Regions from separate parts of the Homo sapiens genome. Here region 1 is linked to region 2. The links come from fine-mapping of genetic effects on gene expression. Tissue or cell type: whole blood. Region 2 holds a variant in brackets; the other region holds the start of a gene. All regions are shown on one strand. Distances are between the middles of the regions.

Region 1 (5,145 bases), 250 kb after region 2:
TTCTTACAACAGCCCTGTGTTGTGGGTAAGGCAGAAATCCCCCACTGACACAAGGGGAAACTGAGACCCAGAGAGAGGAAGTGTCCCATTAGAGTTCCTCAATGGTCAAGGTGGAGTCGGCGCTGGAACCGCTGGAACCGGGGCTCCTGGTGCGTGCACCTCTGACCGCTGTCGGGTCAGCCCCGCCCACCGCACCACCTACAGGCACCGTGGTCACAGCAGCCCTGGTTCAAACCACGCCTACACAGCAGCCAGCCCACCAGAGTTCCCACATCAGGGTGTGGCCTCAGGAGGGCAGGGCTCTGGTTTTGGAGAGGCTGAGATGGGAGATGGAGAGGACTGTGAGGCTGGGCCTTTCCCTTTCAGGAAGCCAAGGCTCCTGGGCACTCCTCCCTCTCCCATCCCATCCCACCCACCCTCATCACCTTGTCTGCCCCTGGTGCCAGAGGTTATCCACCCTGCATCCAATGGAGCTTGGAAAACACCAGCCCCAGAGATTCTGTTCACTGTCTGGAGGGACCAGGGCTCCAGGAATCCGTGACACCCCCTCCCAGCTGACAGCCATCCCAGATGAGGAGGCCCAAACCCCAGTCTCGCCCCCTTTCTTGCTGCCTTAACCTTCCAAGCCCAGAAGGCCCCGCCATCCCGTCAACCTCAAGGGGCCCCAAGCAGACACCTGCTGTGTGCAAAAGACCTCGATGAGTCCACAAGCATCGACTGAGCCTGTGTGACATGCCAGGCTTCCAGGTGAACGCGACGGGGCAGGGCCTGCCCTCCTGGAACCCACAGCCTAGTGGACACTGAGCCAGCACACAAGGGCGTCTGGGACATCCTAGGGCTCTTCCTCCACCTTCGGCTCACCCTAGACCTCCTGAATCTGAATGTGCATTTCATTAAGGAAGCCCCAGTGAGAAGGGCTGCTAGAGAAGAACTTGGAATTCTGCTTTCTATCTTGGCAGCCCTGGGCAGCCACACTCCTGTCTTCCCCCTCACCTGCCCAGATTCAAATCTCAGGCCTGGCTTTGCCTTGTGCTCTGGAGCTGTGGGTCTCAACACAGAGGGCTTCATATGGAATGAAGCTAGGCTGAGACCGGGACCTGTGCACCCGGAGCTTTCTGGCGACCAGCCTTCCATCTGCTCCACACCTCCCAGAGAAAGGCGGGCCTTGGAGGGCACAATCTAATTGCTGGGCCCTGCCCTGCAAGGCCCACAGCCAAGACACACACACCCCTCCCAACCAGAAGCCAAGTCCTCTGCTGCCTCCCGGACACTGGCACCTACCCTCGGGGTGGCAGCTCCCAGATCCAGGCGTCAGGGAGGGCCCGAGAGCAGACACAGGCGACGCTGTGCCATCTTCTCATCCGCACCATCCCATCTGCCAAACATGGAGTGCCCACAGTCCCCCCCTGCCAGAGGATGGATGGCAAAGTGCTTTTGAAGAGGAGGAAGAGGGAAATAAGCCACACACACGGAAGCGAAAAATTACCGAGGAACACAGCCCCTCTCCCCCTCGCCCTTCGTGCCACCCCCATTAGTCCACCATTTTCCACACCGGGACACCCCCCGGCCACCTCCCGCGGGGCCCTCTCCCAGTCTGACAACGCCCCCAGCCCAGGCACTGAAAGGAAACCGATCATGAAAACCACCAGACTCTGTTCCCCAGCTGCGAAGAAGCTGCCAGCACTGGGAACCAGAGACAAGCCTTTGGCCTTCGTGTGCCTACCTTCTGCCCCCCGCCGGGAAGAAAAAGCACATCCCTCATCCCAGACAGAAGCTTAGAGGCAAGAGTGTCCAGAGGGCCAGGCAGGAGGCTGGGGACAGATGCAGCTGCTCAGGCTAGGACAGAGCTAGGGTGGGCTGCCTGGGGTGCAGGTGGGAGACCTTCTCTCACAACCCACCCCCAAGACAGCAGGCAGCCCAGAGGTCCAGCAGGTACAGACTCCCCTGCCACAAGGCCACAACAACAGCACAGACAGGAGCATCACACACACAAACACGCAGACACAAGCACACACAGACACAGAAGGCCAGAAGTGCAGACAGGCAGCTGCCCACATGCACAGGCACACACCTCACACACGGTCACACGGACTGGCAGTCACAGCCACACACACACGCCTGCACACACAGGCTCAAACGCGCACACACACACTTACACATAATCCCAGACACGCACACACATACATGGGAACCTGCGGACACAGAGACACACACATTCAACTGCAGTCACACTCATGCTATCCACCTCCCCACGGGCAGCCGGCGCAGACCTCCAGGATTCGCCAGCAGATTGTGCCCAGGGACAGTGGGGAAGGCTTACGGTCTCTGATGTCCCCACCAGGATCCTGCATCTCGACCTGCCAGGGCGTCAGCAGACCCAGCTCTCAGGCACAGCCCGAGCCCCTCTGTTCCCACGGCCGCCAATGCACTTAACAAGACTTCACTTCTAAGTTCTCTCCCATCATTCCCCCACCCTCCCACCTGTCACCCACCATCCGAAGCCCCCAAAGGAGACACTGCGCTTCCGGCCAAACATGGTTGTGGCTGCAGAGCCCGGGGTCCCAGCGATGTCCCAACGACGTCCCCGGGGCTGTCCGCAAGAGGGCCGTGGTACAGCGGGGTCAGTGCCGGTGCAGGGCGGGGAGCCCAGCGTGGCACCTCCCTCTTCGCCTGCCCCCAACCCGAGCTTCCTGTGGGTGAGGCTGCAGAGCTGGGAGGTGTGTCCTGCACTCCAGGAGGCACCAAGATAGGCCGAGGAGGTTGTGGAGGGCAGCTTCCCCACACCCAGAGGAACCCACAGCTCCGGAAGGGGCTCGGCTGGCAGATTGCTCCACAGCCCCAGTTAGCAGCCCGGCCCACACAGCCCCAGCTTCCTGGAACCCAAAGGCGCCCCAAGGATTCCCACAGCCACGCCTAGGAGGGACAGAAAGATTCAGCTGGAAGCCTCAGGGACGCCTGAGCACTGGGGACCTTCACACCCACTCCCGAGGGCTGCCTGAGACAGGGACCTTTGCCTGCCTGCCCCACCATGGCTCGGCACACGCCAGAGGAACCAGCCACACACATGTCATTCCACTAGCACACGTGGATGTAAGTATACATGCACACGCATGGGCACAGGGGCACGTGGGATGCACACATGGACACACACACGCCCAGGATACCCAGGTACACACAGATACATGCACGCAGACATACGTATCATTAGACACCTGTACACACCTGAGCACAGCGCGGCACACACGCTCCCGTGCACATCCACACACCACTTCACACAGGCATCAGTAGACACACCTGCACACGCTTCTCACATACTGACAAAGCCCCATTGGACACGTGCACAGACATGAACGCATACACATGTGCCCGCAGGCACTCATCCACATACTCAGACCACATCACACTGCAAGGGGCATTCGCATGTACACACACATGGGCACAGAGCTGTACCTGTCAGCCGCCCCCCACCCCCGCCGCCAAGTGTCTAGACAGAGGTCAGAGCAGTGGCATGCTTCACGCTGGCTGTGTGGGGTGGGGGGGCGGTACCCATGTGCGGGTGGATTTGTCTTCCCAGCTGAACCGCAGGGTTCGTCCTCATCTCTGCATGCTCAGGTGCTGGTCCTCATGCCACAGGGCTAGCGTGTCCTGCACGCATCCCAGTCTGCACACCACAGGGCCAGTGCTCATCTCTGCACGCACTGGTGCTGACCACACCTGGTACACAGCAGGCACTTACTAATGGCAGCCCCTCAAAGGGATGTGGCACGTACACTACAACAGACACTGGGGGGAGTGGGCACAGATAGGGCCCCAGGCCCCACCCTACCCCCAAGCAGTGGAGAAAGGGAAGAAAACGTCTCAAAAAAAAAAAAAGAAGAAGAAGAAAGGCCGGGTGTGGCGGCTCACACCTGTAATCCCAGCACTTTGGGAGGCCAACGCGGGTGGATCACCTGAGGTCAGGAGTTCGAGACCAGCCTGGCCAACATGGTGAAACCCCATCTCTACTAAAAATACAAAAATGAGCCAGGCATGATGGCAGGTACCTATAATCCCAGCTACTCTGGAGGCTGAGGCAGGAGAATCGTTTGAACCTGGGAGGCAGAGGTTGCAGTGAGCCAAGATCATGCTGTTGTACTCCAGCCTGTGCAACAAAGAGCAAAACTCCATCTCAAAAAAAAAAAAAAAAAAAAAAAGGAAAAAAACGGCCCTAGCTGGTGCCATTGGCCTCTCTCTCTGGCCAACCCTCCCTGAAATTTCCTCTCTGGCACCTGCTGCCACTGTGAAGGTCCTAGACTCCGTGCTGAGGTGCCAGGGGCCAACCCCAGCTTGTGGACGAAGGGTACAAGGATTTCTATTTTCTTGACTCCTTCACAGCAGGGGACAGCACAGGGGCCTCAAGCCCTGAGTGGGCTGGGGGAGCAGCTTCAGGGTCCTGGGCCAGAGCAGGGCTGGGGGCTGACTCTCTACCTCCAAGGCAGCTAGTCCCCAGCAGGAGCCCGGAGGCTTCCCCCAACCCTCACCTCTGCCCCAGGAAAGTTAGGATTGTGTGGTTCATGCTCTGGGGTGGCTTCAGGCTGCTGGCTTCCCACAGGATGGCCACTGCAGAGTGCCACAAGCGCCTCTCTCCCCAGAGGCACCCACCCACACCCAGGAAGTGCTCAACAGGTACCGTGGACAACTTGGGTCCTGCCTGCCCTGCCTCCATCTGAGAAGAACCCTCTGCACTCAATCCACCTCCAGGGTCAGGAGTGGGCACCTGACCAGGCCTGGCCAGCCAAGGGGACTGGTTCAGGAGACCTAAGTAAACCCAACAAGACACCATCCCAAGAGGCTTCCCCTGCTGAAGCATGAGATGAAAGCCTGGGGCTGTGGAGAGTGTGGGGAAAATGAAACCGACTCACAGGAAGGCAGAGAAGAGAACTGACAGAGAAAGGGAAAGAGGAGAAAGATCATGTCTTTTTTTTTTTTTTTTTTGAAGAGTCTCGCTCTGTCACCCAGGCTGGAGTGCAGTGGCACGGCTCACTGCAACCTCCACCTCCCTGGTTCAAGTGATTCCCCTGCCTCAGCCTCCCACATATCTGTTTACAGGCGCCCGCCACCACGCCCAGCTAATTTTTGTGTTTTTAGTAGAGACAGGGTTTCACC
Region 2 (5,145 bases):
AAAAATTAGCTGAGTGTGGTGGCAGGCGCCTGTAATCCCAGCTACTCTGAAGGCTGAGGCAGGAGGATCACTTGAACCCGGGAGGCAGAGGTTGCAGTGAGCCGAGATCACACCACTGTACTCCAGCCTGGGCGACACAGCGACACTCCATGTCAAAGAAAAAAAAATTTTATATATATATATATATATATATATATATATATATATATATATATATTTCTACTGGAGTACATAAAAAGAAAACTTGAAATAATAGAAAGATATATTTGTGAATAGGAAGTTTCTATGTAATAAAAATGTCAAATCTCCCTAAATTAAAACTTTATCGTGACCCTAAGAAAAGTTCCAAAAAGACTTTGGAGAACTAGAAAACTTGATCTTAAGTTTATATGGAATTATAAGGTTCCAATAAAATCAAAGAAATAGCATAAAATGCCCCTAACCTGAAGGTCACATATATCAAGGTTAAAGAATCATTGAAGGTCCAAAACAATGAAAGCAATTGTTTAAACTCATGCCAAGATATATCAACAAATTTCAGATCAACTGTATATACATTCTATTCTCTTATTGTTAGTAATAATTTTCAATGGACATTCTTTGTGTTTCCAAGTATGCAATCATAACATCTGCATATAATGAAATATTTGCCTTTGGTCTTGCAGGGAACAGGTTGTTTCCTGCACAACATCTTTTAAGTCTTTGATGCTGGCATATGCGGATCATAAATACTTCCGGGAAAAAAAAAACAGATCAGCAAAAAAAAAAACATGATCAACTACAAAAGCTCAAGAATCAAAATGGTAACTCTGGATGCTAGAAGACAGCGGAGTGATGCCCTCAAAATTCTGTGGAAATAAATATTTTCAACACAGAATTTCCAGCCAAACTAGTCATCTAGTGTAGGGGAGAATAGAGACATTTTCAGATGTGAAAGGACTTAACACATTTGTCTTCCATCCTTCCTTAAGAAGCTACTGGGGGGTGAGCTCCAGCAAAACTCAGGAGTAAGTCAAGAACAAGGAGTTCATGGGATCCAGAAAATCACAGATGTTACCCAAAAAAGAAGTCTGGGGAATACAGCTGTGCTAAGCAGGCCTAGAAAGTAACAAGGCCAAATTGAAGCAAAAAGAAATCAGGCTCCAATGAGTTTGGTACCAGGAAAATAGTAGCCCTCATAGAACATAAGGGAAAAAATGAGACTGTGTATATGAGGAAGAAGGCAAATTAAAGTGAAGGTAATTAGTCATTCCAGGGAAAACGTAAAGTTGTACAAGAAAGGACATAAAATTCTACTTAATTTTATAGTAAACAAGATTTATATCATTATAATGACCAGTATACTGACTGCCACATAACTCAAAATACTGTTATATTTTGGGAAGATGAAGAAAGGGAATAGGGTTAAGAGAACTAATTCCATCACTAGTCATTACAGAAATGCAAATAAAAACCACAATGAGATACCATCTCACACCACTTAGAATGGCGATCATTAAAAAGTCAGGAAACAACAGGTGCTGGAGAGGTTGTGTAGAAATAGGAATGCTTTTACACTGTTGGTAGGAGTGTAAATTAGTTCAACCATTGTGGAAGACAGTGTGGCGATTCCTTTAGGATCTCCATTTGACCCAGCAATCCCATTACTGGGTATATACCCAAAGGATTATAAATCATTCTACTATAAAGACACATGCACACATATGTTTAGTGCGGCACTGTTCACAATAGCAAAGACTTGGAACCAACCCAAATGCCCATCAATGATAGACTGGATAAAGAAAATGTGGCACATATTCACCAGGGAATACTATGCAGCCATAAAAAAAGGATGAGTTCATGTCCTTTGCAGGGACATGGATGAAGCTAGAAACCATCATTCTCAGCAAACTAACGTAAGAACAGAAAACCAAACACCATGTGTTCTCACTCATAAATGGGAGTTGAACAATGAGAAACAATGGACACAGGGAGGGGAATAACACACACTGGGGTCTGTCGGTGGGATGGGGGGCTAGGGGAGGGATAGCATTAGTAGAATACCTAATGTAGATGACGGGTTGATGGGTGCAGCAAACCACCATGGCACATGTATACCTATGTAACAAACCTGCACGTTCCGCACATGTACCCCAGAACTTAAAGGATAATTTAAAAAAAAAAAAGAAAATGTAGTATATATAACCATGGAATACTACTTAGCCATATAAAAAGGACAAAATATGTTTTGTGCAGCAACTTGGATAGAGCTGGAGGCCATTATTCTAAATGAAGTAATTCAGGAATGGAACACCAAATACCATATGTTCTCACTTATAAGTGGGAGCTAAGCTATGGGTACGCAAAAGCATACAGAGTGGTATAACGAGCTATGTAGACTAAGAAGTGGGAGGGTGAGAGGGGGTGAGGGAGAAAATACTACATATTTGGTACAATGTACGCTACCTGGGTGATGGATGCACTAAACTCTCAGACTTCATGACTATGCCGTTCATCCATGTAACCAAAATCCACTTGTACCCCAGAAGCTATTGAAATTTAAAAAAAAAAAATTTCAACCAAAATGCTCTGGTGCATAGAAAAATGTTCTTATAAGTTCTTGTGCTGTACCATTTAATTTTTTTTTCGGTTTTATTGAGGTACAACTGACAAAATTGTATAAATGTTGTTTTAAAAGTCAGCAGGAAACAAAAGTCAGTAGAAGCTTTTGCAATGTCGGTTTTACTTTCGCGTCACTGCTACTCTTCCCATGTTCATGAAATGGTCAGGTATTTTAGGTTATCAGCATAACCCAGGTTTCCATACACCACTTTTGTCTTTAATAAACAGGGTTCTGTAGTAGACACCCATTGGGAACGTGCCAGCTCACAAGAACCCTTTAACAGCCCCCCATCACCCACAGGGCTATCTGTGGCACCCACAAGTCCAGCCCACTGGGTGGAGTTGATCAGAGTAGGAGGTCATCACCTGACCCTCTTGGGCTGATCAGAGTCTCCCTCATGGGACTCTGGAATAGAACCAGACACTAGCCCTGGACTCCCT[CTT/T]AAATGAGGGAGATGTGGATTCATGTGATACAGAAAGGTTCTCCCCAGAGAAACTGAGAAAGCTGCTCTGTTAGTCTGGGTCCAATCAGGAGAGAGAAGCCACACAGTAACTTGCATAGGAAGGTTTCATATAAAGAATTCTTTAGCAGGGGATTGGAGTACTGAGGGATTGGCTACTAATAAGCGAAGACAACTCTAACAGATACAGGAATAGCGGAAATAAGGAGCAGCCTCCACCCCTAAGGGTAAGATAGAGCATCCAAGGAAGAGCTGCCCGCCCCCACCGCCAGGACTATGCTACGATCCAGCCCTGGATGGCCTTGGGTCACTGGATGGAAAAGTCGCTGTGGTGCCACACCAGTAAAGCATACTGAAAATCCACCCTCTGTTCATGGGGAGGTGTCTCACTGGAGGTACTGTGCTGCAAGACCACTGGGGCACTGTGGTGGGGACCAGCAGACAGGAAGGAGTTGCTGGCAGGAGAAGCAGCTAGCCACGGGGCGCGGCTGTGTGTCATGCCCTGCAGGGGGTGGGCACTGGAGAGGCTGGGGATGGGCAGGGGAGGGGTGCTGGAAAGGCTGTGTGCCCTGAAAGAACCTGGTGCTGGCAGAGGTGCCCACCCTGCAGGAACCAGACCCCCAGATGCAGCATGTGCTACAAGAGCCAAGTGGGAATTAAGAGGTTGCCAAGCAAGCACGGGAGAACCGGGAGATAAAACTCTGTCCCTCCTGCAGTGTCTCTCTGGCGCCCTCTACTGACAAAGCGCAACACGGTGCCGCTGACAAAGGAAACATATTGAAGGGCCCAGATCCATTTTCACAGTCCAGACAGTGAAGGGAAAATCTGGTGCTGAGATCAGCTCAGCTGGTCCTCAAGGAAAGAATAAAGCTACACAAAAAGTCATCCCAAATCCATAAAGACAATGCCAACAACCCAATAGAAAGAAAATAAATACAGAGAAGCACAGAGAAAAAAGCAGAAGCCAAAAAAAAAAAAAACAGAAAGCAGAGGCAAGAGACTGCCTGAGGGCTGACAACCTTTGCTGTCCTTCATGTGGCACAGATGCATCCCTGTCCTTTGATTCCAGGAGACACTCCTGTATCTTTTTAACAAATGCTCCCCTTTTTGGCTTAAAGTAGTTTGAACTGGGTTCAACCCCTGCAACAAAGTCATCGTAGTTAATACTAGCTGGCAATAAAATGTCACTAAATTAAAATCTCAGATAACATTAACATTGCTGAGTCCTTGTAGTAGGTTACAGTTGTTTGTCTCTGCTAGAGTTTTATCCTTCCTAGTTTTAGAAACTCTCTTTCTTAGTGGAAAATTCTGTAACTAAAAAAGGTAAAATCGTTTCCATTATATTCACTATTGCACTTTCAGTGGCATAGTTGGATTTTATCTGGACCCCATTGTCCATATTCCCTGGATTTTTCCTCATATTTCTTACTAGTGATAAGTTCTTATAAAACCCAACAATCGGCATTTTAGAACAAGGCCATAAAGACTTCCTTGCTGGTCTAATATTTAATTTTTTAATGGAATGTCTTGCAGGAGGATCCATAAAATTCATTTGACCCAATAATTTGAGCAAGCGTTCTACCATCTTTCTTATGAAGTGTCTGTGCCTTTCCTAGTACAGCCTCACTGGTGTGTGTATGATCATTCATTTGTACATTTTTATGTGGAGCTGGTTATGTTGCAGTTTGTTTTTATTAGTCCTTTGATATGAGCTGCTTTGTGTTATTATTTCACTCGATGGAGTCACTCATCAACTCATCCTTTTTTTTTTTTTTTTTTTTTTTTCTTTTCTGAGATAGAGTCTCGCTCTGTCACCCAGGCTGGAGTGCAGTGGTGCGATCTCGGCTCACTGCAACCTCCACCTCCTGGGTTCAAGCAATTCTCTGCCTCAGCCTCCCGAGTAGCTGGGATTACAGGCTCCCGCCACCACGCCCAGCTAATTTTTGTATTTTTAGTAGAGACGGGGTTTCACCATCTTGGCCATGCTGGTCTTGAACTCTTGACCTTGTGATCCACCCGTCTCGGCCTCCCAAAGTGCTGGGATTACAGGCGTGAGCCACCGTGCCCAGCCCTGAACTTTCCT

What was found. PIP is the estimated chance that this variant, and not a neighbour inherited with it, causes the effect.
Region 1: RAP1GAP2 starts here. The variant in region 2 is fine-mapped to the expression of RAP1GAP2 in whole blood (TOPMed, PIP 0.96).

What each region holds. Positions count from the first base shown.
Region 1 is chr17:2,793,919-2,799,063 of GRCh38, reverse strand. RAP1GAP2 (RAP1 GTPase activating protein 2) reads right to left here and starts at 2,626. Exons shown (of 25, transcript NM_015085.5): 1 at 2,493-2,626. The coding sequence starts at 2,536.
Region 2 is chr17:3,042,564-3,047,708 of GRCh38, reverse strand. No RefSeq gene overlaps it. Among named protein-coding and RNA genes, the nearest start is that of OR1D5, 18 kb to the left of the region's middle. The variant CTT/T (reference allele first, on the strand shown) is at 3,043.